7 separate regions of the Homo sapiens genome follow, and all the other regions are reported to be linked to region 2. The links are microRNA targets in miRTarBase. Many come from high-throughput screens and were not tested one by one. Region 2 holds a microRNA gene; each other region holds the end of a gene's coding sequence. Distances are between the middles of the regions.
The links. The annotated mature microRNA hsa-miR-6873-5p reads CAGAGGGAAUACAGAGGGCAAU and lies in region 2 at 2,887-2,908, opposite strand. An mRNA with a match to its seed (bases 2 to 7 or 8) in the 3' UTR can be bound and repressed. Matches are read on the target gene's strand: a 7mer-m8 pairs with bases 2 to 8, a 7mer-A1 pairs with bases 2 to 7 and ends in A, and an 8mer does both.

Region 1 (3,000 bases), not on the chromosome of region 2:
TTACAGGCACCCACCACCACGCCCAGCTAATTTTTGTATTTTTAGTGGAGACGGGGTTTCACCATGTTGGCCAGGCTGGTCTCGAACTCCTGACCTCAAATGATCCACCCACCTCGGCCTCCCAAAGTGCTAGGATTACAGGCATGAGCCACTGCACCCAGCCTCCCCCAAATATTTTCTATCTGTGGTTAGTTGACTCCACGGATGCAGAGCCTGAGGATACGGAGGGCGACTATACTTGTTCCTAAACCCTGTTCCAGGTCTGCTCTGGGGACTTCACCCTAAGACAGTGGGTGACTCTCTCCCATCCTATCTTTCACAGCCAGGCCACTGAGTCAGTCTCTGGGGTGAAAGGATCAGGGAAGCATGAGCTCAAATCCCAGCTCCACACTAGCCATGATCTGCTGGTGAGGGCATCACTTAACCTACTCTGGCCTGAGTTTCTCCATCCAACAGACACTTATGACATCACCCACCGCCCTCTAGGAGCTGCTGCTATGATTAAACGGCGTATTTAATAGGAGTCCTCGGCACATACTTCAATATTAGCATCCACCCTTTCTCTACAACTTCGCCCTGCCAAGTGCACACACACACTCCCTAGAGAGACAGCTGGAGGCTGGGCCAGGAGGGTATAGATCCTTTATTTCCTGCACCACACGCACACAGGCTGACAAGCAATAGGAGATTGAGAGGTGCTGTGTGAAGGGGGGCAGGTACCTGCAGGAGGCCTCAGTCCCAGCCCCCAGCTATTGAGGAACAAAGGTGTGGGAAAGGGCAGAACATGGAAGAGGAAGCCAGGGGCAGGGAGGGGGGGATCAAGACAGAGGGGAGAGGGGCTGGGCCACGGATGGGAGCCTGGACACCCCCAGGCCACTGGCAGAAGAGGGAGGGAGGGAGAGGAGACACACCACTGGGCAGAGGGGCCCTCACCCACCCACACACAGAGACACTTGTGGTTACAAACAGTAGGTAGGGACTGAGAAGAAAGGATGAAGAACAGGGAAGACAGCCAGGTCCCTCAAGTCAACAAGAACCAGGGTGGCTACCATTAGCATGGGCATCAAGGGGTGAGGGGCACATTGTTGGGAAGGCGCTCACAACTCCCTGCCGGTGGAAGCTGGGCCCTGTTCCCTGCTCAGGGCTGAGTCTGGTAGCCAGTGGGCCTCTCCCGGGCTTCTCCTGCCCCCTGGGCTGCCATGTGGCCCAGACCTGGCAGCCACAGCTTTTGCACCAGCTGCAGAGCGAGGGCCGGGGTTCCTACCGCCTGTCCCTGAAGACGTTGGAAAAGCCTCCAACATGTGGGAAAGGGCAGAACATGGAAGAGGAAGCCAGGGGCAGGGAGGGGTCCCCAAGCTCCAGCCCAGGTTCATGAACACAGAGGGTGGGCTGGTGACAGACACAGGGTCCCATTTCAGAGGATGGGAAGGAGGGTCTGCGGGTGTGGGGCTTGGCCAGGCAGCAGAAGGAGGGGCCTCAAGCTGTCTGTGGGGCCTCTGCAGGCTGCTGGGGAACAGCAAAGCCTGGAAGAGAAGCAGGTGGATGTGAACTGGGGCATTGATGACCACAGGCCTGGCCTGGGCGGTGGGCAGGGGTCTGATCAACTGTATCAGAAGGACACGGAAAGTCGCCATTGATAATTATGCAGGTTGCCCCCTGCATGCGCCATAAAGGTCATGGTTCAGTTTATAACCTGCACAAGCTTACATGACACGCCTGCTGAAGCCAGTGCTATTCCACCCGGCAGTGACCAAAGGGCCATGAGAATGGGGACAGGCTGGGACGGGTACCAGGACAGCACTAGAGGGGAGGGATGGGCCAGTGAAGGTGCTACAGCACAGGAGTAGAGAGGACGGGCTCAGATCTACCCCGGCTGTGTGGCCCCAAACAAGTGTCCTTAGCTCTCTGAGCCTCACCCTCCTCACCTAACCAATGGGGACACATCACCTGCCACGGAATGAGGCTGATGGGAGCTGATGCACGTGCAATGGCTGCTGTGCATGAGTGTCACAAGGTCATCTTTCATGTCCTGCGGCTCCTTAAAGAGGCAGGGCTCACATGGCCTGCACTCGGAAGGTGCAGCTCCCAGACTTTGGGGTTTCTGGCTGGGGAGAGGAGACCCTGTTCCACCCCACAACCCTGCAGGAGGCCCTAGCCCACCTTCTGACACCCAGGGGACTGTTCCAACTGTGGCCCTTGCTGGTGAAGGCCTTTGTCCCCATAGCCTGGGCAGTCCCAGAAGGCCTCTCTTCCTCCCAGGCCGTGGGAGGGTGGCTGGCCCTGTCCTCCAGCCTGGGTCAGCCCCCGGGCTGCTCCACCATCCCACCCACCGCCCCCCGTGTTTGTTTTGACTGCTGCTGCCACTGCTGCAGAGTTGGAGAGCCTGGGGGATAGAGGAGGCAGGGGTTGGGGGCAGGGGAAGCAAGCGGGCAGAGATGGGAAGCTGAGGCGCAGTGTGGGGGCACAGTCCCAGCCCTAACCCCCAGCCCAGCCCCCAGGAGAAAAGTGGATGGAGATCTGGAATCCTAAGCAAATGCCACATAAATGAGCACTGACACTACGGTTCCCACTGAAGGGGATCAGAGGTGTCTATGCAAATGATATGCAAAGTCCATGCAAATAAGCACAGCAGGTAGAGCCAGGCTGGGGCAGGTGAGCACTCGGGGAGCTTATCCACCCTCTCTTTTCATCGGCACGACGATCTGCAGCTTGTCCGGCTGGCGGCAGGGAGGGCCCCGTGGGGGCACTCACCTTTCTGGAGCATCTTCCACCTCAGCTGCCGCCTGTAATGGGCATCTTGCCAGTTGGCCAGCTGCTGGAGGACATAATTCATGTCCAGGTGTGAAGGGCCCAAGCCGCTGGCCTCCAGGGCTGATGTCACCACGTTCATCCGCGTTGCCTCATCCAGCTCCAGTTCCACCTCCTCCCAGCCCTCGGTCTCCTCTGACACCAGCTCTGCCTCTTCCATCACCCCTTCCTCAGCCGGCACCTTCTTGGCAG
Region 2 (4,521 bases):
TGCCCAGTGAATACCTGATGACAAAAGGAATCAGAGGAAAATACAAATCAGACAGAAAAGCTGTGGAAAATGCAGATACTCCCTCAGGAACAGCAGAAATCCAAAGCAGACACCACCTCCACCCCTCACATCAGCCAGACCTGGAGAGAACGATCATCTTGAATGACAATGATGAACACAGCGCTCCCTATTTTGCTAAGCGCTGTGCTAAACTATATGCCTTAACTCATCTTAATGTCTACAACAGCTTATATGAGGGCTTTAAACCAAGGCTTGGTAAACTACTGCCCATGGGCCAAACCTGGCCCATCATCTAGTTCTGTATAGCCCACAAGCCAAGAATGGTTTTTACATTTTTAAGTGGTTGAAAAAAAATCAAAAGAATATTTTGAGACTGTGAAAACCGTATGAAATTCAAATTCCAATATCCAACAAATAAAGTTTTATTGGAACGGGGCCACACTATTTACTTAATACTGTGGCTGCTTTTGCTCTACAACACACAGCCGAGTGGTCACGACAGCGACTACAGCATCCTGATTTGCACTGCTGCTTTGTACACTACAAGTCACAGTGACACAGTCGTAAGTGCTTCACAGCATTTCAAGCACCTCACATATCACCTATCATTACCTGTGTGAAAAGATGTTTTCAAAGATGAAATACTTGCAATCTCTACAGATCAGCATGAACATGAATATCTACAGTCAAATTTGACCATCTGGAACACTAACTTTGTACATCAATTAGGCAAAATGTTAACCTCAAAAAGAGAAATTCAGTTCTTCCCATTAGTAGATCTGTATTACACAAATATATTTGATTATTATTATTTTTTTTTTCTGAGACCGGGTCTCACTCTGTTGCCCATGCTAGAGTGCAGTGGCATGATCACAGCTCACTGCAGCCTTAACCTCCTGGGCTGAGGTGGGAGGATCACCTCAGCCTCCTGAGTAGCTGGGACTACAGGCATGCACCACCACACCCGGCTAATTTTTCTATCTTCTGTAGAGACAGAGTTTTGCCATGTCATGGGTGACATGGCTTGTTTCGAACTTCTGGGCTCAAGTGATCTGCCCACCTCAGCCTACCAAACTGTTAAGATTACAGGCATGAGCCACTGTGTCCAGTCTCATATTATGTTTTGTTTGTTTGTTTGTTTTTGAGACGGAGTTTTGCTCTTGTTGCCCAGGTTGGAGTGCAATGGCACAGTCTTGGCTCACTGCAACCCCTGCCTCCCAGGTTCAAGCAATTCTCCTGCCTCAGCCTCCCAAGTTGCCGGAATTACAGGCCCCCGCCACGACACCCGGCTAATTTTGTGAATTTTTAGTAGAGACAGAGTTTCGCCATGTTGGCCAGGCTGGTCTCAAACTCCTGACCTCAGGCGATCCACCCGCCTTGGCCTCCAAAGTGCTGGGATTACAGGCGTGAGCCACCGCACCTGGCCATATTACGTTTAATTTTATAACCTAAAAATGTGTGGGCCAGGCGCAGTGGCTCACGCCTGTAATCCCAACACTTTGGGAGGCCGAGGCGGGCAGATCATCTGAGGTCAGGAGTTCAAGACCAGCCTGGCCAACACAGTAAAACCCCGTCTCTACAAAAAAATACAAAATTAGCTGGGCATGATGGCAGGTGCCTGTAATCCCAGCTACTTGGGAGACTGAGGCAGGAGAATCGCTTGAATCTGGGAGGCGGAGGTTGCAGTGAGCCGAGATCACGCCACTGCACTCCAACCTGGGAGACAGAGCAAGACTACGTCTCTCTCAAAAGATTTAAAAAAAAAAAGGTCAGGCGCAGTGGCTCACGCCTATAATCCCAGCACTTTGGGAGGCTGAGGCGGGCAGATCACTTGAGGTCAGGAATTCGAGACCAGCCTGAACAACATGCTGAAACCCTGTCTCTACTAAAAATACAAAAATTAGCCAGGTGTTGTAGCAGGCGCCTGTAGTCCCAGATACTCGAGAGGCCAAGGCAGGAGAATCACTTGAACCTGAGAGGTGGAGGTTGCAGTGAGCTGAGATTGCGCCATTGCACTCCAGCCTGGGTGTCAGAGCGAGACTCCATCTCAAAAAAAAAAGTTGTGATAATTTGTTTTCTCTTGGTATTTAAATGCCTACATGGTACCCTTTGATTTTACCTCTTATCAGCAAATCATAAAATATTTACTATCTGACTCTTTACAGAAAAAGTTTGTGGACCCTTGAAATGGACACTCATATTTCCATTTTCGGGGTCAGGAAACTGTGGCACACAGAGGTTATGAAATATGCCTATACTTGCAAGGCCCATCCGTGGTAACACTGCGATTTAAACCTGGGCATCCTGGCTTTAGACTCTGTGCTCCTAAAGCACACTGCCTTCCACACCTTTCTGCCCACCTATGACTCCTAACACCTCACCCCACCAGTGACTTACGTGCCTGTAGAATCTACTGCCACAGCCCGGACCCCACCACGATGACAGAGAATCTTTGCCAGTGGCTCCTTCATAGCTGGACTCCATAAAGACACAGTACCTGGAAGAGAAGAAGAACCAAAGTTGCTAATACACACCTAAGCCTGAGGTTACTAAACATGGGAAAGATGGGAACTCAAGACCAAGAGATAACAAAAAAGGGAAATAAAAGGGTAACTTTAAGGGACTCATGAAGTACAAATATAGAAGAAAAGCAAGTCAGGATGGTCAGAGTCAAAACTAAGCCAGGTACTGACCATTGCTGTGTCCGAGATGGATGACGGCATTGTAAGGGTTCTGACTCATAACATCGAGCCGCCCAGCTCGAGCATTCAGAGCTGCCACAATCTTCCCCACTGACACATCCAGGTAGGTTAGAAACCCTGTTTCTGACTGAGAGAGAAAGACAGAGAGAATGACCCAGTCCTGATTGCCCTCTGTATTCCCTCTGCTGGGGTCCTAAAGGAGAGGTGGTCATCCCAAGGGCTTCCAACCAGTTCCTGAGCTCCATGGCCACTCACAGCTGTAGCCAGGAGGAAGTGGAAGGGCAGGAACTCAAGCCGTGTTACTCGGTCACAGCGGCGGATACAGTGGAGCTCAATGCCCTGATTGTCATAGATGTGGAGCCAGCGGTTCTGAGCAACAGCAAGCAGTGCCTCAGAATGGAGAAACCTGGGGGAGAGGAAGAGTGGTTCAATTGGGAAATGAGGTCACAGGCTATCATTCAATCAGGAATGGACTATCTCACCCCAACTGACCGCTGACAGTGAGGCCACTGACCGGATGTCCCGCACCGCCTCCATGACGTTGATCTCGCACATAAGCTTCTTTGTTACCCAATCAAGGGCAGCCACATGACCTCGGCGCCCTCCAAAAGCCAGGTGTCTGTTGGAGGTGAGGGGCAGGCAGGGTGTTAAGGCAGGGGACCACCGACTCAGACAACTTGAGGTCTGCCCCACGCCAGCCCCATCTCTCCAGGCGGGCAGACACATGTTGCTGTAGGTGCTTACCCTCACACCCAAGCAAATCGAAGGACCCTCCCCTCATCAGCAACCCAAACATACACTGGGAATGGCTGAAGTGGTTAAGGAAACACATCTTAGTTCAAGAGTCACTAGAATTCAACCTTACCTTCCAGTTCGAGAGTAGTTTAGTCTGTAGGGTCCAAACTGCCGCAGATTCAAGTCAAAGTGCTGGGAAAGAGAAGAGTGAAAAAAAAGAGTGCCCTGCAGTAACGCCTTCTTCTAGCCCCCATTCCTCTATTGTCCTGCACCACCAATCAATCCCTTGGCTCCTTTACCTCCTCAGGCTCACCTTGGCTGCACTTGCAATGTCCACAGCCTCCACAATGTCAGCCTGGCATATCTTTGCTGTGTCTTCCCCATCCTCCCCTTCCAGAAACCTGAAAGCAAGGGTTAGGATGGCAGTAAAGCTTCCCAATATGAAGCAAGTATACCAACATAAAAACGAGAAAAGACAGTCCCAAAAGGCAGGGAATGGGGGTCCAGATTAGGGCTCACTCACCCAGGTTCTTCAGCAAGCAGCAGCTCAGAACGAGCAGCTTTGATACTTGTTTCCTCTTCCTCAGCTTCAGCCACCTCAAGTCGGCTTCGAGTTTTGGCTTTAGAATGTGGTAGCTGTAACATTGTTGGTGGGGAGGAGTGGCAGAAGAACCACAGGATAAGTGGGGTCACAGGAGAGCTACCTGTCCCAGCCTCCATCCAACTCACCCAGACACTCCCTGCCTCCAGCACTTCCCAACTCTCCGGCTGGACCTCACCTTTCGGGATTTGTCAATGCGACAGAACTTCTGGACCACTTCCACAGGGACGGGGGCGGGGCCTGGGAATGGATCTTGGGTCTAGGGGAAAGGAGGACGCAATTAGCAGACAGCCTTGGATTGACCCCAACCCTCTCACTCTCAAGGAACGAGGCGGCCTGCCTCGCCACCCATCAGGTCCCACGCTCACCCCGGACAAGCCGCGCTGGGACTCCGGGTTCTTCCATTCTCGGGGTTTCTTCGGGACCTGAGGCTTCTTAGAGATCCGAGACTTCTTTAAGATG
Region 3 (3,000 bases), 100 Mb from region 2:
TGGCCTCTGCCTAACCAGATTCCTCCTGCCTCCAGGTAGATTTTATACTTATTTCAAGGCAGAAACTTGGTGGAAGGAGGTAATCTGTCGCTAATGTGTATTTATTCCTTCATGCATGTATGCATTCATACCCTGGGATTTTTTTCTTCCCTTTAGCTGTGTTCCAGATCATCTCCCTGGTAATTTACCCCGTGAAGTACACCCAGACCTTCACCCTTCATGCCAACCCTGCTGTCACTTACATCTATAACTGGGCCTACGGCTTTGGGTGGGCAGCCACGATTATCCTGATTGGCTGTGCCTTCTTCTTCTGCTGCCTCCCCAACTACGAAGATGACCTTCTGGGCAATGCCAAGCCCAGGTACTTCTACACATCTGCCTAACTTGGGAATGAATGTGGGAGAAAATCGCTGCTGCTGAGATGGACTCCAGAAGAAGAAACTGTTTCTCCAGGCGACTTTGAACCCATTTTTTGGCAGTGTTCATATTATTAAACTAGTCAAAAATGCTAAAATAATTTGGGAGAAAATATTTTTTAAGTAGTGTTATAGTTTCATGTTTATCTTTTATTATGTTTTGTGAAGTTGTGTCTTTTCACTAATTACCTATACTATGCCAATATTTCCTTATATCTATCCATAACATTTATACTACATTTGTAAGAGAATATGCACGTGAAACTTAACACTTTATAAGGTAAAAATGAGGTTTCCAAGATTTAATAATCTGATCAAGTTCTTGTTATTTCCAAATAGAATGGACTCGGTCTGTTAAGGGCTAAGGAGAAGAGGAAGATAAGGTTAAAAGTTGTTAATGACCAAACATTCTAAAAGAAATGCAAAAAAAAAGTTTATTTTCAAGCCTTCGAACTATTTAAGGAAAGCAAAATCATTTCCTAAATGCATATCATTTGTGAGAATTTCTCATTAATATCCTGAATCATTCATTTTAGCTAAGGCTTCATGTTGACTCGATATGTCATCTAGGAAAGTACTATTTCATGGTCCAAACCTGTTGCCATAGTTGGTAAGGCTTTCCTTTAAGTGTGAAATATTTAGATGAAATTTTCTCTTTTAAAGTTCTTTATAGGGTTAGGGTGTGGGAAAATGCTATATTAATAAATCTGTAGTGTTTTGTGTTTATATGTTCAGAACCAGAGTAGACTGGATTGAAAGATGGACTGGGTCTAATTTATCATGACTGATAGATCTGGTTAAGTTGTGTAGTAAAGCATTAGGAGGGTCATTCTTGTCACAAAAGTGCCACTAAAACAGCCTCAGGAGAATAAATGACTTGCTTTTCTAAATCTCAGGTTTATCTGGGCTCTATCATATAGACAGGCTTCTGATAGTTTGCAACTGTAAGCAGAAACCTACATATAGTTAAAATCCTGGTCTTTCTTGGTAAACAGATTTTAAATGTCTGATATAAAACATGCCACAGGAGAATTCGGGGATTTGAGTTTCTCTGAATAGCATATATATGATGCATCGGATAGGTCATTATGATTTTTTACCATTTCGACTTACATAATGAAAACCAATTCATTTTAAATATCAGATTATTATTTTGTAAGTTGTGGAAAAAGCTAATTGTAGTTTTCATTATGAAGTTTTCCCAATAAACCAGGTATTCTAAACTTGTTTCCAGTTTGTAGTTTTTCCATTTTTCAAATCTGGGGAAAGGAATTAAAAAAAAAATGGGTAATAAGAACATGGGATATAATGAAAAGTGGTTTTTGTTTGTTTTTTTGTTTGAAGTTTTAAGGGCCTTGCTCATTTTAGGTGTCCAAAACCAATTTTTGAGTGGAGATTAATGAATTCTAATAGTCTATTCCCTGAACTTTTCCTCAATGAACAATACCCTAGACACACATTAAACAATTTCTCTGCAGTGCTATCAACCAGAGGAAAATGGACTAAGAGATTTCTGGCAGGTTCAGACACCCGGGGGACATGTGTGCAGTGTAGCTGAAGCCTCCTCCTTGTGCTGGGGTCCCCTTCCATTCAGGTGGTGGGGTAGCAGTCTCTCTATTTTCCCCTTGCCCTCCTTCCCATTTTATCATTTGTTATTTTTTTTCCCACCATAAGTCATATGTTACTTCCACTATGGTGTATGTCATTGTGAGGATGGGTGCAGAGAGGCTGGGTGGGAGAACGGAAATATATCTCCCTAGGGCTACTGTTGGCCAGCTAGTCCTTGGCAGTGAATTTTTCTATGCTTTTCAAAATGCGAGGTGAATGTTTCTCATAGAGAAATGTAATCTGGGTGATTATACCAAAATTGAAAAGAAAAACCCACACAACTATGCCGTGGCTGGTGGAGAATTTGAAGTGGTCATTAAAAATGTTAAAAATCCCATCTTTTAAAGTGATACCACAGCTCATTCAAGAAGATACTGGATATCTAGAGATTAAGAAACGTGGTCTCCTGTTAAACATGAAAATGACTCCGTTTATAAGCTTCTCTACCACATGCACTTGTCTTTGCATGATTTCCCATCCAGCCTTCTTCCCCTCCTCAATCACACAATACCTTAACGGCGCACATTTAGGAAAAATGCAACCTCCTGGGACCAACGAGCCTGATATAATAGAACCATGTCAACCTAAAGTATTTATGACAAAGATAAACTCTTATTTTGCAGAAATGGTCTGCTTCCTTCAGCCTTGTTCTAGTATAGAGATCTGCCATTCCTTGTTGATCCAGATTCACCAAGACAGATACCTTTATGTCATAACAGAAGGGAAGTTCCAGAGGATTCTGGAGAGTAATGAAGAATTGGGCTGAGAAACCACCTGAAGGCTAACAGTGCATTGCATGAGATTTCCCACAGTAAAGCTGAGGTGCTTTTTGGTTCAGTAATTAAATATTGAGTTCCCACCCTTTAAATAAGCAGTTCTAGGTTCCTAAGCAATTATTTCACTCTGTAAGTAGCCAGACATGCTAAGTGGCACTTACTGCTGATTGTAACAAAGAAGTAATATATCAAGGTCTTTC
Region 4 (4,521 bases), not on the chromosome of region 2:
TGCTGCCCTCAAGGCCTGGAGTTCCAGCATCCAGGTCCAACTGGGCCTGCGTAGACCACACTTGCCTCCTCATAGTCAACACGTGTGTTATGCTCCCCTTCCATGCCAGGGAGGTTCCCTTCTAGAGTCTGAGCTTGGGTGAGGATAGATCCAGGCTTACGGGGAGTAGGTAGCCAATTCCATGGAATGCCTTCAGAGGTGCCAGAAAAGGCCCCATGTTCTCCAGATTGCTTGGGACTCCACCATTCAAATCACATCAGCTTAAGGTTTTTTTTTTAAAACGGGGGTTCAGTAGCACTTTTGTCATTAAAAAAATCACCATGGGCTGGGCGCGGTGGCTCATGCCTGTAATCCCAGCACTTTGGGAGGCCGAGGCGGGTGGATCACAAGGTCAGGAGTTCAAGACCAGCCTGGGCAACATGGTGAAACTTTGTCTCTACTAAAAATACAAAAATTAGCCGGGCATGGTGGCATGCACTTGTAATCCCAGCTACTTGGCAGGCTGAGGCAGGAGAATCACTTGAACCCAGGAGGCAGAGGTTGCAGTGAGCTGAGATCTTGCCACTGCACTCCAGCCTGCACGACAGAAGAGACGCCATCTTAAAATTAAAAAAAAAATCACCATGAAGTCAGCTACCCAAAGACCTTGAGGTGAAGACTCTGGGACCAGGGCTCCAGGAAGCATTTCAGCATAGTAGTTAAAAGCATGTGGGCTTTGGAGTCAGACACACCTGTTCTGGATCCCCAGTGTGCTACTAGCCAGCTGTGTGCCTTTGGGCAAATCACTTCACCTCTCTGAACCCGTTTCTTAAAGCTTACAGCCCCTACCTTGCAGGCCTTTCATGGAAACCAGATGGTGAGGCATGAAATGCTCTGGGGCAGGACTCAGGTGGAGTGGGATGGTGAGAGCTGCCCTGTTCTGAGGGCAAGCCCTGAATTGGAGTGCAGAGGCAGGGCTGTGAAATTCTTCAACTCTAGGTCTCCTGTAGGGCAGCAGGAAAGCCTACTCCTTATCTTGAAGGAAGCCTGGGTCTTGGGCCTGAAAGTCCCTTAGGAGATTCCTATTACCTTAGTGATCTTCAGTGTTACCTTGAATTAGGCAAAGCAGGGCTTATCATCTGCCCACTTAATAGGCATTAAAGGGTTGGGAACCAAAGAGAAGTGATCTACCTGTGATCAGAATGAATGAGACCCACTGGTATGTTTTCCAGTGGTTCCTACCACTGTTCCCAGCTCATTGTCCTAAGGCCACACCCAGAACCACAGTGAAGTTGGGTAGCCTCGTGTCTATTAAGGCTGCTGAATGAACCAGCTGACTTGCTCATGCCCACCCAGCCTGTTTAGCTTTGACACACACCTACCAAACTGCCCCTACTTCTTCCCGTCCAGAGCAGAGCTAACAAACAGCCTGCCTCACAGAATTAGTGTAAGAAGGTACATAAAGTAGTGGCCAGGTCCTCTGTATATGCCACCCCCTGCAGCCTGGCTGAGCTGCCTGTCACCTTTACCCTGGTTTGCCGACTTATGGCACTCAACCCTGTCCCTCCCGAGGACTATGGGGCCTCAGCTCAATTTGTCAAAAACTAAGAAGCTGAAGAATCCTGGGCCCTCGTTCCTTCTCCAAAAACCAATCTAACACCCTGGCCCTCAACCCAAGCACTGAAGGGTCTAGCCTCCAGCTCTGACCATTGGGCTTACGAGGCGGCGAAGCAGCAGTGGCTTCAGCGGCTTGAGGCTGAGGGAAGAGGGAGGGTGGTCGTGTTCTCAGGGCCTAGCTCCACAGCTGCCAAACAGGCTTCCCCAAGGACCCCAGCACTGGTCTCTGGGGGAGTCCACAAGGGGAAGGAGGACTGGGTCCCGGTCCCAGTTCAGTAGTGGACTTTCTGGGTGTTCTTGCCTGCATCACCTGTGTCAGGCCTCAGTTTCTTCAGACACCTACAAACTGGGTCTGAGTGACATAATTCTAAGGGCCCAGCCCTACAGGAGATGCCTTGGGATTCCAGGACCTCACAGTCTCCACTCCTTGAAATTGTAGTACCCCTGCCCACCTGCCTCTGAGTGCAGGTGATAAGAACAGGGACAGAGAAGCGGAGACCCCTGTGCAGCCAAGGCCCTGGCTTCTTGCGGCCTCCTTGGATGCCTAGCTGGGGCAGGGGCAGGTGGAGGGGGGTTGTGGTGGTGAGACTCCAAATGGAAAATATCCTGGCCAGGCACAGTGGCTCATGCCTGTAATCCCAGCACTTTGGGAGGCTGAGGTAGGTGGATCACTTGAGGTCAGGAGTTTGAGACCAGCCTGGCCAACATGGCAAAACCCCGTTTCTACCAAAAACACAAAAATTAGCCAGGTATGATGGTGTATGCCTGTAATCCCAGCTACTTGGGAGGCTGAGGCAGGAGAATCGCCTGAACCTGGGAGAGGTTGCAGTGAGCCAAGATTGCACCACTGCACTCCAGCCTGGGTGACAGCAAGTGAGACTCTGTCTCAAAACAACAAAAAACACAAATGGAAAGTATCCTCAGGCAGAGACCAGATGTTTGCCCTGCAGCCTCCACCCACCCTCTGTGGAGTCAGGGCCTGCTCCACCCAGTTCAGTAACATTTCCTCTGTGGGTGTGGCTGTGGCTGTGGAGGGTGGAAGGAGGCTGACTGACTTGTTCTCACAAGGTCTGGGACTTTGGGGGAGGTGGGTCTTCCTTCCATTTGTAAAATGGAATAAAATAAAGTCAACAGCATCTAAGAGTCTCATGTTCCTCTGGAACTGCAGGAGATGCAGGGCACACAGGAGCACTCTTGTTGTGCAGATAAACAGGCCTGCGGCTGGGGTGGGGGGTTGGGATGGCAGGCACTAGAGTACCAGATTCTGAGTAAGAGCTCAAGTGGCCCGGCAAAGGAAGGGGAGGCACTGCTGTCTCTCAGGTGGCTCCTGCACTCCCCATGTTAGTACAGGGCCTGGGTCTAGAGAGAAATGGACCAGATGACCTACACGGGCTTCAGATTGGATGCTGGAGGTGGAAGGTGGATCACACCCATTTTCAAAGTCAGGTGGTTCCTCCCCTGCCCACCAGGTACCAAAAAGGCCATTGGACCAAGACCTCTGGTAAGAGCTACAAGAGAGGGAGGAGACGCCAAGGTTGAGCTTGCTTTATGGATGACAAGTGGGCTAGGCTGGGCTGTCGGGGGCAGGACGAAGATTCTGGCTGAACTTTCCAAGGGACGGGACGCTTGGGATCCTGGCTGGTACGAGGCCTCCCACACTGTCAAATGTCAACTCCACCAGCACTGAGACAATGAGTAGATGAGAATGTAGAAAGAGGGAAGGTGGTAGGTAAAGGAGCGGAAGGAAGAGGTGGGGAAAGAGGGAAGGAGAGAAGGGAAGGAGGGAAGAGAAAGAAGGAAGAAAAGGAAAGCATGGCCCGGCTAGAGACAAAGCCAGAGGTGATCAGGTCAGCAGCAGGAGAGGCTCAGAAGGGAGCCTCTCGGGAAGTGCAGGCAGCCATGAGGGCTCGTTTCAGCTGCTCATAGGTGACGAACATCACCACGTTCCAGGAACCCAAGCGGAGAAAGGAGGGCATGAACCTAGAGGAGAAAAATCACAGGTCATGGGGGCACCTCCACCTCCCACTTCCCTCACTGGGCCTGGTATTCAATCCAACCCAGTTGCTCTGTCCCAAAGGAGGCTGGGAGGACTCAATGAACTGAGCTCACAGCTGCTTGGCTATAAGCATGAATTCCCTTTGAGTCTCCATTTAACACCTAATAAACAGTGATGGTAGCAATTCTGGGAGGAAGGAATTAAGGGGATAGGTGAATGCTGGTGAAATGCCAGGACCAGGATCAGAAATAGTCACACTTGGCTGCTACTCACTTCCAGGTGGTTCTCTCCCACCCACAATAGACATGCATAGCCAAGAGGCCTGAACTGGGTGGGGAGGACCAGAGGCTCACCCTTTGTAGAAGGCTCGGGGCCCCTCCTTCTGGAGCATGGTAAGGGCACAGTGGCCAGCGCTACTGTACTGGCCCAGGGCAGAGTTCATGTATCTCGTCTTGACCACGTCTACAGGGGAGGCGATGACAGTGGTGCAGAAGCCTGCCCCAAAGGCAGAAGTGAAGTGGCAAGGGAGGTCATCTGCCAAGGAGGAGCAGGCAAGGCAGTCAAGATCTTCACCCATCATTCCAGAAGGCAGGAGAATTACTTAAGTAGCTACGAGTTTTCATGATTTTAAAGAGACAGAGAGGCTGGGCACAATGTCTCATGCCTGTAATCCAGGACTTCTTTTGGAGGCCGAGGTGGGTGGATCACTTGAGCCCAGGAGTTCAAGACCAGACTGGGTAACATGGCAAAAACCCTGTCTCTACAAAATACAAAAATTAGCCAGGCACAGTGTGCATGCCTGTAGTCAGCCCCAGCTACTCAGGAGGCTGAGGTGGGAGGATTGCTTGAGTCAGGGAGGTCGAGGCTGCAATGAGCCATTAATCACCCCACTGCACTCCAGCCTGGGCAACCGAGCAAGACCCTGTCTC
Region 5 (4,521 bases), not on the chromosome of region 2:
GTCAAAAAGAATAAAATGCACAGAAATTAGCTTACCCAAGGTGGTAAATGGCTTGTACAATGAAAACTACAAAACATTGCTTCAATAAAGATAAAAATAAACGGAAATACATCTCATGTTCATGGATTGGAAAATCTAATGTTAATATGTCAGTACTACTCAAAGTGATGTGCAGATTCACTACAGTCTCTATCAGAATCCTAGGATTTTTTTTTTTTTTTTTGCAGAAATAGAAAAACCCATCCTGAATTTCATGTGGAATCTGAAGGGATCCCAAATAGCCAAGTCAGTCTTGAGAAAGAAGAACAAATTGGAGGACTTAAACCTGCAGAGTTTAAAACTTACTATAATGCTACAGTAATCAAAACAATGTGATTCTGGCATAAAGGCAGACGGATAGACCAATGGGATAGACTGGAGAACCTAGAAATAAACCCTCTCATATGTAGGTAAATGATTTTTGACAAGGGTGCCAAGGCTATTCCAAGGATAGTTTTTTCAACAAATAATGATGGGAAAGCTGGATAACCACATGGCTAACTAACAAAGTTGCAACCTCACTCATTTGCAAAAATTAACTCAAAATGGACCAAAGACCTAAATGTGAGAGCTAAAACCATAAAACTCTTAGGATGTGGCAGTGGTTTCTTGGATATGACACCAAATTCACAGACAACGAAAGAAAAAATAGGCAAATTATACTTCATTAAAATTTTGTGCATCAAAGAACACTATCAACAGAGTAAAAAGATTACCTATGGAGTGGGAGGAAATAATATGCAGTTCACGTACCTAATAAGGATTAAACATCCAGAATACATACAAAACTCCCAAAATGCAACAACAGTGTAAAAACCTGATTTAAAAAATGGCAAAGGATTTGGATAGATCTCCAGAGAGGACATGCAGATAGCCAGTGAGCACAGGAAAAAATGCTTAGCATCACTAAACAGTAAGGAAATGCAAATCAAAACCACATTGAGATACCACTTCATACCCACTGGGATAGCTCTTATTAAAATTAAAAAAACACACAAGTGTTGGCAAGGATGTGGAGAAATTGGAACTCTTATTACTGATGGAAATATAGTGGTATGCAGCTGCTGTAGAAAACAGTATGGTGATTTTCCAATTAAATATAGAATTGTCATTTGATTCAGCAATTGCATTTCTGGGTATATACACAAAATAATTGAAAGCGGAGGCTTGAGGGTATATTTGTATACCAGTGTTCACTGCAGCATTATTCACCGTAGTCAAAAGGTAGAAACAACCCAAATACCCAACAGATGAATGGATAGACAAAATGTGTTATATCCATACAATGGAATATTATTCAGCCATAAAAAGGAAATCCTTCTACATACTACATCATGGATGAACCTTTCAGACATTAAGTAAATCACAAAAGGACAATACTATATGAATCCACTGATGTGAGGTACCTAGACTAGTGAGATTCATAGAGACAAAGTAGAACAAAGATTACGTTTTGTCACAGGGAGCAGGAGGGAATGGGAATTTATTGTTTAAGGGGCACAGAGATTAGTGTGGGATCATGAAAAAGTTCCGGAGGTGCATAGTGGTGACTGGTACATACAACGAATGTATTTAATGCCTTTAAACTGTAACTTCAAAATGGTTAAAATTTAAATCTTACGTACATTTTGCCACAGTAAATTTTTAAACCACCAAAAAAAAAAAAAAAAAAAAATATGGCCTAGCTTTTTTTTTTTTTTTTAAAAAGGGCAGGGGGTGGGGTATTTAGTCACAAGACATAGAGGAACTTTAAGTGTATATTGCTAAGTGAAAGAAGTTAGTCTGAAAGGCTACATACTACATGATTTCAAATATATGACATTCTGGAGAAAGCAAAGTTAGTAAAGACTGGTTGCCAGAGGTTCAGTGGGAGAGAGGGAGGGGTAAATACATGGAGTAGAGATTTTTAGGGTGGTGAAACTACTGTATACAATACTATAATAGTGGATACATGACATTATATATTGGTCAAAATCCATAAAGACATACAACAAAAAGAGGACCCTTCATGTAAATTACAGGCTTCAGCTAGCCTGGATGACAGAGTGAGACTTTGTCTCAAAAAGTAAAGTAAAAATGTGTCAATATTGGTTAAACAAATATACCACACTAGTGCAAGATGTTAATAATAAAGGCCTGGGGTGGGGGGAAGCATAGGGGAACTCTATACTATCTGCTCAGTTTTTCTGAAAATCTAAAACTTCTAATAAAGTCTATTAAAATTATGTGAGAGCTTTTCATTTTGTGTACTCTGTCTCAATGTCTTACCCTCATGTGTTTGTGAAATGAGTGAATGATGGGTGATGAATGAATTGGTGACACTAGTGACCCACTGAATTCACAGCACTTACACTGGGCCAGACTGTGTAGAGAAGCCAGCGTGCATCCCAGCCTTGACGAGGACATAGTTCAGAGACAGGCTGTTAGGTTTGGCCGGTGCATGCCCTTCTGCCTAAGCCATTTACCAGCCCCAGACCTTTCCACTGCTCCAAGACTTTATTTTCATACTTCCTTAAAGTTACTATTGCTTTTTTTTCCCCCATGTAACTTAGGTAGAAAAAACTGGAGAAACTAAATTGTTCTGACCTAATCAGTTCTTAATATTGCACCTAAAAAGATAGAAACTGCATTCTGAAAAATCATGCACTAAAAATTACAAGGGAAATAGGTTTGGAACTTTGTGACCTGTGTAGTACAATAACAATCCTAAATTTCCAGTTACTTGCACCTAGAATTAGTCAATCTTTTGCAGTCAAAATTTTGGGTTTTTGTTTCTTCCTTTGAGAGACAGATCCTTGAAATCAGTCACTTCTAGTAGAAAGCATTTTCATCAATATTGAAAGAATGATACAGAGGTATCTATCAGTCAGCGCTTTTTTCTAATTGCCAGGTGAAATGTCTTCTCAGTTTTTTCATCAGTACTTGCAGCTTCTCAGATAACAGCAGGAATGAGGTGGTTTTGAAGCCACTAAGCCAGCTACTCCTTGCATTTAAAGGGTTTTCATCCTTTTTCATAAGATCTTCATATATCCCTTAGGGTTTCTCTCTAGGTGTGTGAACATTTGCCTCTGGTTGCTTCAGCACATCAGCTTTCTGGGGAGAGTCATGTTGAACCAATGTGACTTCGAATTATACTGGTATCACCCCCTACTTAGCAGTTGCCGATGGACTGATGCACATTACAGAAGCACACACACCTTGCAGCAGAATGGATTATGGTTCATGATACGAGTTACACAAGCGTTTTATTTAAGAAATAAAGGATTAGATTTTTAATTCTTTTACCTAGTGGTGTTTCATTTTCTGCCTTTGTAAAATAAAAACAATGATTTGGTTCACTTTGACGTTTCTTCAGTGTTGTTCATGACCTGTGAAAAATAAGTAAGAATTAAGATGCTTTCTCCATTGCAATGTTTCTTACTACGCACACCTATCTACATGTCTCTTATCTTCTTCACATATATAAGCCAACCCCTTCTGTTTGTGATAGGATGTGTTGAGGTAAACTAACCTAGAATATCAAAAATTTCCAGCAGCCTGACAAGACTCCTCAGAACACTGAGTTCTGTCAGATTCCCCATTCAAGTCTCACATATAAAGTTCCCTGCATGCCTGCCCACACCCCCCGCCCCTCACTGTCTTTGCTCACTGCCTCTTACCCAAAGTTCTAACAAGCCTGGTGACCTGTCTTAGATATACAAGTTAGAAAAGGGTGGTTGAGGGGAAAAGATTGCTAGAGTGAGTCACTGTAACAGCAATGACAATAATAGATGGCAAGAAAATACCAAGGAAACAAGGACTAATAAAACCTGTGGCTAATTGGGACTATTTAGAGACAAAAATTCCCTCTGTAGCCAGCAAGTCCTGAGACTAACACCCATATCTGTGGAAATGCAGTAAGAAAAACATGGGTTTAACCTCCCTAAACCTCAGTTTTCTCATTGTAGAGTGAGAATAATACCACCTACTCCATACAGTTGTTAAGGTTTATAGGAGTTAAAATATTTGAAATATTAACCATAGTACCTGGCACACAGGCATGTGGTGTGCATGATCATACTGTTACACTGCTTTCCATTTGGAGAGTTGTGTTGTCAGCATTAGGGCATTATTGCAGTAGGGATGGTGTCTAACAACAATATAAATGCATGCTAAGACTTCAGGCTGTGGATTTATGCTAGGAATACATTGGAAAGATTGCCCGGGGAGGCTTACATTCCAGAAGCACACAAGGCGACATGAATAAACCTATCGATGAAGTAAGGCTTGATGGTGTGGTGGCAGGAGGACATCCTTGGTGAAGGAAGGTCATTAATAAGTTTTAAAAATATAATGTACCTTTATGCTATGATTTTCATAATATGAGCTAACATTATTAAGCAAGTCCCAGTCTTCATAATCGGCTCTCCTCATCAGAGAATCTAACTTTATTTTCATGACATATCTTGTCACATTTAGTAAAAGGCTTTTGTGTGTGTGTGT
Region 6 (4,521 bases), not on the chromosome of region 2:
GGTATAGGAAGACCTTTCTGAGGCCATGTAGGAGACAACCTGGAGGGGAGAGACTGGAGGTCAGGGTAGAGGCTGGCATGAGGGATTTAGGAGAAAAGAACAAGGCCTAAACAGAGAGCAGAGGATGGGGCAGAGAGAGTCAGGGGGCAGTAGGGATGGGGCAGTAGTGGGCTGTTGGAGAGGGAGGGAGTGATGACAGTACCTGGAGATATAACCCAGTCCCCCTGCTTCCATCAAGCTGGAGAAGGGAAACCTTCGAGTCAAGCAGCTGAAGCGGCAGCTGGAGGAGGCCGAGGAGGAGGCATCCCGGGCTCAGGCCGGCCGCCGGAGGCTGCAGCGTGAGCTGGAAGATGTCACAGAGTCGGCCGAGTCCATGAACCGTGAAGTGACCACACTGAGGAACCGGCTTCGGTATGGTCATCCCACGTACAGGCCTGACGGGTGGGGAGCACCCTAACTCCATAAACCCCAGGGACGCGAGGCCGTGCCAGGGGCAACAACAGGGGGAAATGGGATCCACGGGGGTGTGGGGCTGTGGGAGCAGCGGCTGTGTTGCGGGAGAGCCAAATCCAGGTAACTTCTTTCTTCCCACACCCATTTCTCCCTGTCATCTCTGTGCCCTCCTTTCCCACCGTGCACCACCACCTTTCTCTCCTTTCCTCCTCTCTGTGTGTCCTTCATCTCTCTCTGCCCCCCATTGCTTCTGCCCGTCTCCCTCCATTTCTCTTGATCTCATCCCTCTCTTCCCCCTTATTTTGTTCTCTCTCTTCCTATCTCTCTCTCTCTCCCCCTCATCTCTCTCTCTCCTCCCCCTTTCTCCTCCCCTCCCCTCCCCTCATTTCATCTCTGTATCCTGGTCTCTCCTCCCCACAGACGCGGCCCCCTCACCTTCACCACCCGCACGGTGCGCCAGGTCTTCCGACTAGAGGAGGGCGTGGCATCCGACGAGGAGGCAGAGGAAGCACAGCCTGGGTCTGGGCCATCCCCGGAGCCTGAGGGGTCCCCACCAGCCCACCCCCAGTGACCCTACCCTGTCCCCAGATGCACTAACAGATGGGGCCCAGCCCCCTTCCTCCCTGGACCCCACGGGCCCCTGTCCCAGGAACCCCGCCCTCTGACTTCTTGCCCTTTGGAAATGGTGCAGCACTCTGGCATTTATCACCCCCACCTGGGTCCCCTGCAACCTCCCATCAAAGGATGACCCCTAAACACAGAGGAGCGGGGCAGGCAGGGAGGCAATGACTGGAGCTACCTTGCTTGTTGGGGGACTGGGTACAGTTGGCAAGCTGTGTTTCCATCAGCTCCCTGTCCTCCTTTCTTCCCTCGTTATTGATCTATAGACATTAGGAAGGGAGTGAGACGGCTCCTCCACCATCCTCAGCCAGTGCAACCCATTCCCTCTGCTTCTCTCTCTCTCTCTCTCTCTCCCTCCCTCTCCTTCCCTACCCTCTCACCATCTTTCTTGGCCTCTCTGAGGGTCTCTCTGTGCATCTTTTTAGGAATCTCGCTCTCACTCTCTACGTAGCCACTCTCCTTCCCCCATTTCTGCGTCCACCCCTGAACTCCTGAGCGACAGAAGCCCCAGGCCTCCACCAGCCTTGAACCCTTGCAAAGGGGCAGGACAAGGGGACCCCTCTCACTCCTGCTGCTGCCCATGCTCTGCCCTCCCTTCTGGTTGCTCTGAGGGTTCGGAGCTTCCCTCTGGGACTAAAGGAGTGTCCTTTACCCTCCCAGCCTCCAGGCTCTGGCAGAAATAAACTCCAACCCGACTGGACCATCTCTGTGGCTGTGTGTGTTCCTGCAGGGGGTCTCTGATGGGGCAGGATGGGCACAGGCTGCTTCAGCCTGCTAGGGCAGCAGGTCAGGCAGCCTGCTGGTTAGAATGACACCTGCGTGGGTATACAGGGACATCCTGTGGATCAGGCGCTTCATAACTCCTTTCCTCCTGACTCCAGTGTATAATGGAAATATTCCCTGCATTATACAGATGAGGGAACAGTCTCAGAGCAGCAGCATCCCTCACTCCACGCCCCCAGTGAGTGCTAGAAGGGGTGTTGCACTCGGGCCAACTCTTAAGTTTTGCAAAATAAATGACAGGCCTGCTGCAGTGGCTCATACCTGTGATCCCAGTGCTTCGGGAGGCTGAGGTGGGAGGATCACTTGAGCCCAGGGGGTGGAGGCTGCAGTGAGCTATGATTGCATCACTGCACTGTAGCATGGGTGAAGAGTGAGATCCTGTCCCAAAAGCAAAACAAAACAAAAAGACAGCCGTGGTCGTTTGTGCTGCGTGCTGTGCTAAGCACACAGTTTATCTTAACCCTTACATAGCACTACAGGTAGAGATTTCATTGCACTCCAGTGCCTAGAACAGTGTCTGGCACACAGCAGGCATTCACTCAATATTTGCTGAATAACTAAGTGATGCCCCTCCCACCCTTTTAGAGTGGTGGAAACAGGCTCAGAGAGGCTGAGTGACTTGCCCAAGGACACACAGCTACTAAGAAGTTGAAACAGTTTGAACCCAGACAGTCTGGCCTCAGAGTCAGCACATATAGAGGCTGAGCCCTCAGCCCCTGACCCCACCTTGGGGACCCAGGTCTGTCTCTCTCGTGGGAACTAGGCACCCTCGTGTGGGGGCTCACGTTCGTCAGACTGAGTCCTCAGTGACTTTTCAGTTAGAGGTGTGGATCCCCATTTTTACTATCAGGGAAACTGAGGCAGGTGCTTGCCCTAAATAAGGTGCAAGCCGTGGAGCAGATGTCACGATCACCAAAGCCCATCCTCCCCTTTTTTAAAAAATTGAGAAAGGGTCTCACTCTGTCACCCAGGCTGGAGTGCGGTGGCACAATCATAGCTCCCTGCAGCCTCGACCTCCCAGGCTCAAGCGATCCTCTCGCCTCAGCCTCCAGAGTAGCTGGGACTACAGATGCCACCACACCTGGCTAATTTTATTTTATTTTTTGTAAAGACAGGGTCTCTCTTGTGTTGCCCAGCCTGGTCTTGAACTCCTGGCCTCAAGCGATCTTCCTGCGTCCTTGGCCTCCCAAAGTGCTTGGATTACTGGCCTGAGCCACTGTGCCCAGCAATAGGGCCCCACTCTAGAAGTCCCAATCCCTCTGTGCGCCCCAGCCGCAATCAGGAGACTTTCCGAACAGGCACACAGGAGGCCATTTTTAAATGAAAAGGAAACGTTTATTTTGGTGGGGAGTGAGGGTGGGTGGGAAGGGGGCATGACACTTTTTCTTTGGGGAGAGGGGGGTGACATGCGGCAGCTTCTGCATTGGGCGGTTCATGCACCCAGGGTGGGCGTGGGGGAGGCTTGGGGAAGGGGCCACGCCGACCCCTCCCTCCCTGCCCTGCGGGTGGGCTGAGAAGACCCGCCATTAGCACCAGAGTTGGACGATTTGCAGACCTCCCCTCCCCACACTGTCTCCGAACCCCGCCCCCATCCCTGAGAGCGCCCCCTCACCACTCCCCCCACCAGCGACAGGCTAGGCCCGCCCCGCCCACATTTGAGTGAGAGAAACTTATTGCTCTGTGTGTGTGTGTGTGTGTGTTGGGGAGGGTGAGCCGCGGAGCTCAGGAAGACCCCCCGCCATTCATTCCTCCCCAATCGCCCCGCCCCCTGGCCCGTGTCCGTGCGTTCCCGGAGCGCAGGAGGGGTGCGACATGCGTGTGGGGGGCGCGTCATGCAGCGCATGCGTGTAGGTGCAGGCACCCTGGCGGCCGGGGGGAAAAGGGGGAGCCGGACTTGGAAAGAGTCCCTTTAGCTCGCTCTCTCCCTCCCCGAATCCCACACTATTGACTTGGGGGATGGGGTGGGAGGGGAGGAGAATCACGTTTTGTAGAAGTTTATCATGATTGTGGTTATTTTGAAAAGCTGAACTCAAAAGCTGGGTACGTGTGGCGGACTGGCGAGCAGGGGGAGACGTTGGGAAGAGGTCAGTACCCTTTGGAAAAGACCCTCACCCCCTTTCCCCGCCTCCTTCGGCTTTCGTGAAGGTCAGGGGAAACGGGGGGGCTTGTTAAAGAAGTTGAACCCTTTGGCAATATAATCAGTCCCCACCCCGTACCCTGGTGTCTGGAGCCCCTAGCCCTTTGCCCCGCCCCCACCAAAACCCGCCCCACCCCTCACCCCTGCTTCACCAGGGTTTAGGGTCCGAGGGAAGGATGGGGGGGACTCAAAATGCCCCTTGCATAGGAATCGTTGCATCGAGAATCGTGCTCAGTGACGCCCCCCATCCACCCTCGGGTGGGGGGTTCCTGAGGCCGTGGGAGCAGAGGGAGGGAGGTGGCTAATTCCGTGGGACCCCGGCTCCAAAAGGGGGGTCCGCTAAAGAGTCTGGGACCGGTGTGGTCTCTGGGCTTGGGGGAGGTAGCGCATCCTTGAGCCAGGATAGGAGGTGGGAAATGATTTTCCACCCGCGAGCGTGACGCGGTGAGGACCGCTGGGGAAGGGGGGCTGGGATCCCAGCCGAGCTGGGTGTTGTCGGTTCCCAATCTTCTGATACTCCAGTGTTC
Region 7 (4,416 bases), not on the chromosome of region 2:
CATGAGAGGCCTGGGAGAGGAGGCAGTGACACAACTGCTGGTCCTGGAGGTCTAGAGCTGCGCTGTCCAGATAGAAGCCACATAGGTAACTTTATATTTTCTAGCAGCCACATTACACAAGTAAAAGGGAAACAGGTGAATTTTAATAATATATTTTATTTAACCCAATACCCAAAATATTTCAACACATATATAAAAAAGTTATTGACATATTTTACACTCCTTTTCTTTTGTTATCATACTAAGCCTTCGAAGTCTGGTTTGTGTTTACACTTGCAGTGTATCACAGCTCGAACCAGCCACGTTGCAAGGGCCTGACAGCTGCACATGGCTAGCGGCTACATATTGGACAGCACGGGTCTAGAGGGCATCATCTGACCAAGACCCGCAAAGGGAACTGAGAAAAGGGCTACTGCCTGAGCATCTCAGGACTGCCCTAAGTTTGAGAAAACATCTCCCCTCTACTCCAAAACTAGATCTCTTTGGAGTACTTTTTAAAGTCCTTTATAGAAGCAAAGCTCTTTCTGCAAGTGAAATACAGAGACACAATACTAAAACTGACAATGGCTGAACTGCTCAGACTGAAGAGGATTTAGCAGGTCCCCCAGTGGTCCCAGAGCCCCCCGCCCCCGCCAGGGTGTGAGGCAATATGAAAATCGCTGCCTTTGAAGATTCCAAAAGGAAACGAAACCACAACTGCATGTCAGGACTCTCCAGACACCTGCACGTCTATGACTTACTAAGCTTCACATCACAATCACCTGCCAAGGAAGCAGCATCCTCACTGAGTAGAAGAGAAAGTAGGCTCAGAGGATCTACTGCCCAAACTTACATGTGCTCACTGGACCATGCTGCCCTGGAAGAAGACACCTGAACTCATTTCCAACCTCAGAACTCACACACCAACTTTCTTGCCCCCAAAGCCCTCCAAGTTTGGACCCCAAATTTACCTTAAGGACTCCCATTACACAAATGAGATAACAGCTTTGGCCAGATGAGAGCTAGACTAGTGTGGGGCCACACAGAGCTGTCTGGACTTGCTTGGAAGCCCTCCAGCACTCAAGAAAAAGACACCTTTTGAAAAAAAAAAAAATTATTTTTATTGGAACTCATCTGAACATCAGATATACCTGGTGTTGGTTAGCAAGAACCGTTTGTACATTTGATACTGATGGTGCCAAAACCAAAACAGTGACTAGACATGATGGGGAAAGATGTTGAGAACAAAAACCTGATTTTGGAGAGGAAAATAAAAGCCAGTCAGATTCAGTGAGGATGCAAAACCTGGTACAACAAAATCCTTTTACAAAATATAAATTTATTATGAAAACCTGGAAGGATAATCCAAGGAAGGTAAAGAAAGAGAAAAGGAGGCCAGCAGAAGAAGGCAGGAAGGAGAGGAAAAGAGAAAAAGACAAAGAGGAGATGAGAGAAGAAAATACAGTTCAGCACAACAGAAGTGCAGAAGCTCACCTACCCAAATGGCATTAAAGCCTCGCTGTGTAATCGTGTCAGAAAACAAAGCATACTGACACATAGTGCTCTACTTCCCATCCACTTGAGTTCTAAGAGGTAAATTAAAAAGCTCCCTGGGAAGGGGACATGAGGTTGCTCAAAAACCCAACAAAGAAAATTAAAAAAAAAAGAGAGAGAGAAACCACACCCCACAGTCTCATTTCCGATGTTCATTGTTTAAAAAAGGAATAAATCCATCTGAAAGTAGGAGAGGAGGAGTGGGAGAGGGAGAGAAGCTCATGGCTTTCACAGACAGCCTGACTCCCCTGGAGGGGAGAGGAGGAAGGCAGAGAGACATGATGGTCTCCTGGTTGAGAGGGGAAAGAGAAGGGACAGAGAGGAAAGAAGAGAGGAGAGGAATGCAGGAGAGGAGAAGAGGGGCAATTAAAACACTGACGACTAATCTAGTTTACTGTGTTTAAAAAAAAAAAAAAAGCCACATGCATAGCAGGCCCCTTGGGGGCTAAGGGCCCACACTGCTCCCTGTGTGGCCGTGGTAGACACTAGCTCCTGGCCTCATCCCCATTCCTTCACAGGTCAGAGTGGAGCTATGCAGGCGCTGCTGCTGCTGCTGCTGTTGTTGCTGCAGTGGTGGTGGTGGTGGCGGCGGCGGCAGGACCTTCGGCTACTCTGCTGGAGCCAATGTGGGGAGGGAAGGGCAGACAGGCCGTATGGTAGGGGAAAGAACACCAAAATGCCTCATTTCAAATAAAAAAGAAAACAGCAGTCTATACACAGTTGTTTGTTTTGGTTCAGTACAAACAGAATAAAAAGTCATTGCTTTTGATGGTCAGCAAACACCCAATTCTGAGGAGGAGGAGAGGTGATGCCCAGCAGGTGGATTAGGACCCCCAGTGGTTGGCGGGGTGCCTGGCTTTGCGGCCCTCTCCCAGGAGGCAGAGAGCACAGCTTTAGGTAGTGTAAGCCTTTTTCCTTTTATTTAGAATAATCTTTTTTTTTTTCTTTTTCTTTTTTTTTAAGCAATTTCCCCACTCCCAAGTTGGGCCAGTAAAGATTACATGAAAACTGGCACACCTATTGGCTGGAATACAGATGCACCAAATGAGGATTTAAAAACTTTCCGAGCGAAAAGTAGAACAAAAAGAAAAAAGAATCTCCTAGCATTTTCCCCCAAGGTTTCACTCTCCCGCCACACACACTCTCCAAAGGACCGCTACAGATCCAACTCTGCAAGAGAAGACAGAGCAGTGTCAATCAGGAAGCCATGAGGACACCAGGAGGAGGTTTTCAGTCTCGACACGCAGAAGACAGAGCTGCCCAGCCCTGGGGTCCTGAAGCCAGCACTCACCTATGTCAGTTTCTTGGCTTTGTTGTAGAGGGAATCCACTACTTTGCTCATGTTCTGAATTGTTTCCAGAGCAGCTTCGTAAGTTTTATCTACTGGGGGTTCATCGAAAATAATCAGGACACCCTCCCCCTGGTCCAAAATCCCTGCAAGAAACACAAGGGCAACCCAGGTAAAAGATGAGGTTAGACACAAAAGTGTTTGTGAAGCAGCCCACTCCCTAGTTGACTCACTGTGTCCAGAAAAGAAGGGAAATAGAATTCATCTCCCTATTCCATGTACACATGCTTATTACACATTCTCATCACAGGGAAGAGGGGCCAGGACCCCAGGGTGAACCATCGGGGGAAACAAATAGAACATCTTCTTTGAAAATAAACTTCTTCAACCATCTCATCACCACCACCAGCCCCCTTGCCTGTGTGACTGTTACTTACCATGAAATTTCTTGTCAAGAATCATCTGTGATAATTTCCTTTCCACGTCGGCCTAAAATCAAAGCACATGATTAAAGGGACCAGTATCCACTAGTCAGAGATCACCCTGACACAGTAGCTTTGTTGGAGGGGTCTTAGGCCAAATGGACTGAAAACAAAATAGCAACAATGCAACTCCTACTCTAGTCCACACTGCCCATTCCCCACTGAGAAGCTGGGGAGCTTTCCAATGAGGCCAATCAGGTGCATGTGCCACCCCTCCTCGCCACCCCGTCCCATTCCTCCCTGCAGATGGCCTTAAGACTCCTTACCTTGGAGAGTTTGATGAGACTAGATATGTGTTCAATCTAAAAGGAAAGGCAGAGAGACACCAACACTGAAAGTTTTACTTTTGCCTCCAATAAGAGAAGGGAGGGAACAGGGGGAGAACTGCTGTATTTCTCAAAATTCTAATGTAAGACCCTCCTTGGCCGTGCTTAAGTCTCTTGTTCTCTGCCCATCTGCCTGCCCTTCACTGCTACACACAATAAACAGACTCTTATCCCACACACCCAATACAGAAAACAGGTACAACACATGCAGTGACTAAAAGCGAGGAGGAAACTGCTCAGAACACATGCAGGGGCAACCCACATGCCTCTACCCACAGCATCTCTCTCCTCGATTTTTGTTCATTTTATCAACAGAGGCCCAAGCTCTTGGTGGCCTCTTGCCCACCAGGCACACCCCTAGAAGTGAGTTCCCATTCTGGACAGGTGTGGAAGGGAGGTGGCTACAGTGAGAATGCCTGGCCAGAAATGGAGTCCCCAGAGGGTTCTCACCTGTACTCTGGAAAAAGGCTCAATGACTCGGATCAGATTCTGTTCTAGTAAGTTATCATACAACTTGGCCAAGTGTGTGCTGATGATTGGGTCATCCCGGAGCTCTGCCCGGTAATCTGTCAGAGCCTGCCAAAGGAACCAGTTGCAGAGATTGGCACAGAGAATCACTTTAAAGTCATGCTACTCCTGCTTCCTAGATAGTCTGCTGGCCCTTATAAAACTACATGGTTGAATGAAGTTAGGGGAGATCTGGGGAGATGCATGATACAAAGCAGAAAAGGAATGTCAAGAACTGAAAGGGAAGTTTGGCTTGGTGGCACGCACCTGGAGTCCCAGT

Region 1: the mRNA of HAP1 is a reported target of hsa-miR-6873-5p. Seed matches in the 3' UTR shown: 7mer-A1 at 1,802-1,808 and 7mer-m8 at 885-891.
Region 3: the mRNA of PERP is a reported target of hsa-miR-6873-5p. The part of its 3' UTR that is shown has no 7-base or 8-base seed match.
Region 4: the mRNA of UCP2 is a reported target of hsa-miR-6873-5p. Seed matches in the 3' UTR shown: 7mer-m8 at 3,355-3,361 and 7mer-m8 at 3,310-3,316.
Region 5: the mRNA of NRG4 is a reported target of hsa-miR-6873-5p. Seed matches in the 3' UTR shown: 7mer-m8 at 1,913-1,919.
Region 6: miRTarBase lists MYH14 as a target of hsa-miR-6873-5p. Seed matches in the 3' UTR shown: 7mer-m8 at 1,396-1,402, 7mer-m8 at 1,430-1,436 and 7mer-m8 at 1,697-1,703.
Region 7: miRTarBase lists PSMD11 as a target of hsa-miR-6873-5p. Seed matches in the 3' UTR shown: 7mer-m8 at 1,739-1,745 and 7mer-A1 at 362-368.

What each region holds. Positions count from the first base shown.
Region 1 is chr17:41,722,015-41,725,014 of GRCh38, forward strand. It overlaps HAP1 (huntingtin associated protein 1), which reads right to left. Exons shown (of 11, transcript NM_177977.3): 11 at 626-3,000. The coding sequence ends at 2,687. Among named protein-coding and RNA genes, the nearest start is that of HAP1, 11 kb to the right of the region's middle. RefSeq lists an enhancer at 2,779-3,000.
Region 2 is chr6:33,284,377-33,288,897 of GRCh38, forward strand. It overlaps MIR6873 (microRNA 6873), which reads right to left and starts at 2,913; the gene lies at 2,851-2,913. WDR46 (WD repeat domain 46) reads right to left here. Exons shown (of 15, transcript NM_005452.6): 2 at 4,428-4,521; 3 at 4,238-4,318; 4 at 3,982-4,094; 5 at 3,772-3,859; 6 at 3,589-3,650; 7 at 3,238-3,342; 8 at 2,979-3,129; 9 at 2,715-2,850; 10 at 2,419-2,518. RefSeq lists enhancers at 2,856-3,389, 3,390-3,923, 4,458-4,521.
Region 3 is chr6:138,089,425-138,092,424 of GRCh38, reverse strand. PERP (p53 apoptosis effector related to PMP22) reads left to right here. Exons shown (of 3, transcript NM_022121.5): 3 at 157-3,000. The coding sequence ends at 383. Among named protein-coding and RNA genes, the nearest start is that of PERP, 16 kb to the left of the region's middle.
Region 4 is chr11:73,971,546-73,976,066 of GRCh38, forward strand. It overlaps UCP2 (uncoupling protein 2), which reads right to left. Exons shown (of 8, transcript NM_003355.3): 7 at 3,946-4,126; 8 at 3,127-3,576. The coding sequence ends at 3,462. Among named protein-coding and RNA genes, the nearest start is that of UCP2, 9.0 kb to the right of the region's middle. RefSeq lists an enhancer at 2,744-2,833.
Region 5 is chr15:75,940,248-75,944,768 of GRCh38, forward strand. It overlaps NRG4 (neuregulin 4), which reads right to left. Exons shown (of 6, transcript NM_138573.4): 6 at 689-3,407. The coding sequence ends at 3,391. FBXO22 (F-box protein 22) reads left to right here. Exons shown (of 7, transcript NM_147188.3): 7 at 1-2,264. Among named protein-coding and RNA genes, the nearest start is that of FBXO22, 39 kb to the left of the region's middle.
Region 6 is chr19:50,308,767-50,313,287 of GRCh38, forward strand. MYH14 (myosin heavy chain 14) reads left to right here. Exons shown (of 43, transcript NM_001145809.2): 42 at 239-411; 43 at 874-1,774. The coding sequence ends at 1,024. KCNC3 (potassium voltage-gated channel subfamily C member 3) reads right to left here. Exons shown (of 5, transcript NM_004977.3): 5 at 3,171-4,521. Among named protein-coding and RNA genes, the nearest start is that of KCNC3, 18 kb to the right of the region's middle. RefSeq lists an enhancer at 4,339-4,521.
Region 7 is chr17:32,479,040-32,483,455 of GRCh38, reverse strand. PSMD11 (proteasome 26S subunit, non-ATPase 11) reads right to left here. Exons shown (of 14, transcript NM_002815.4): 10 at 4,080-4,205; 11 at 3,570-3,605; 12 at 3,259-3,310; 13 at 2,825-2,967; 14 at 137-2,703. The coding sequence ends at 2,825. Among named protein-coding and RNA genes, the nearest start is that of CDK5R1, 5.7 kb to the left of the region's middle.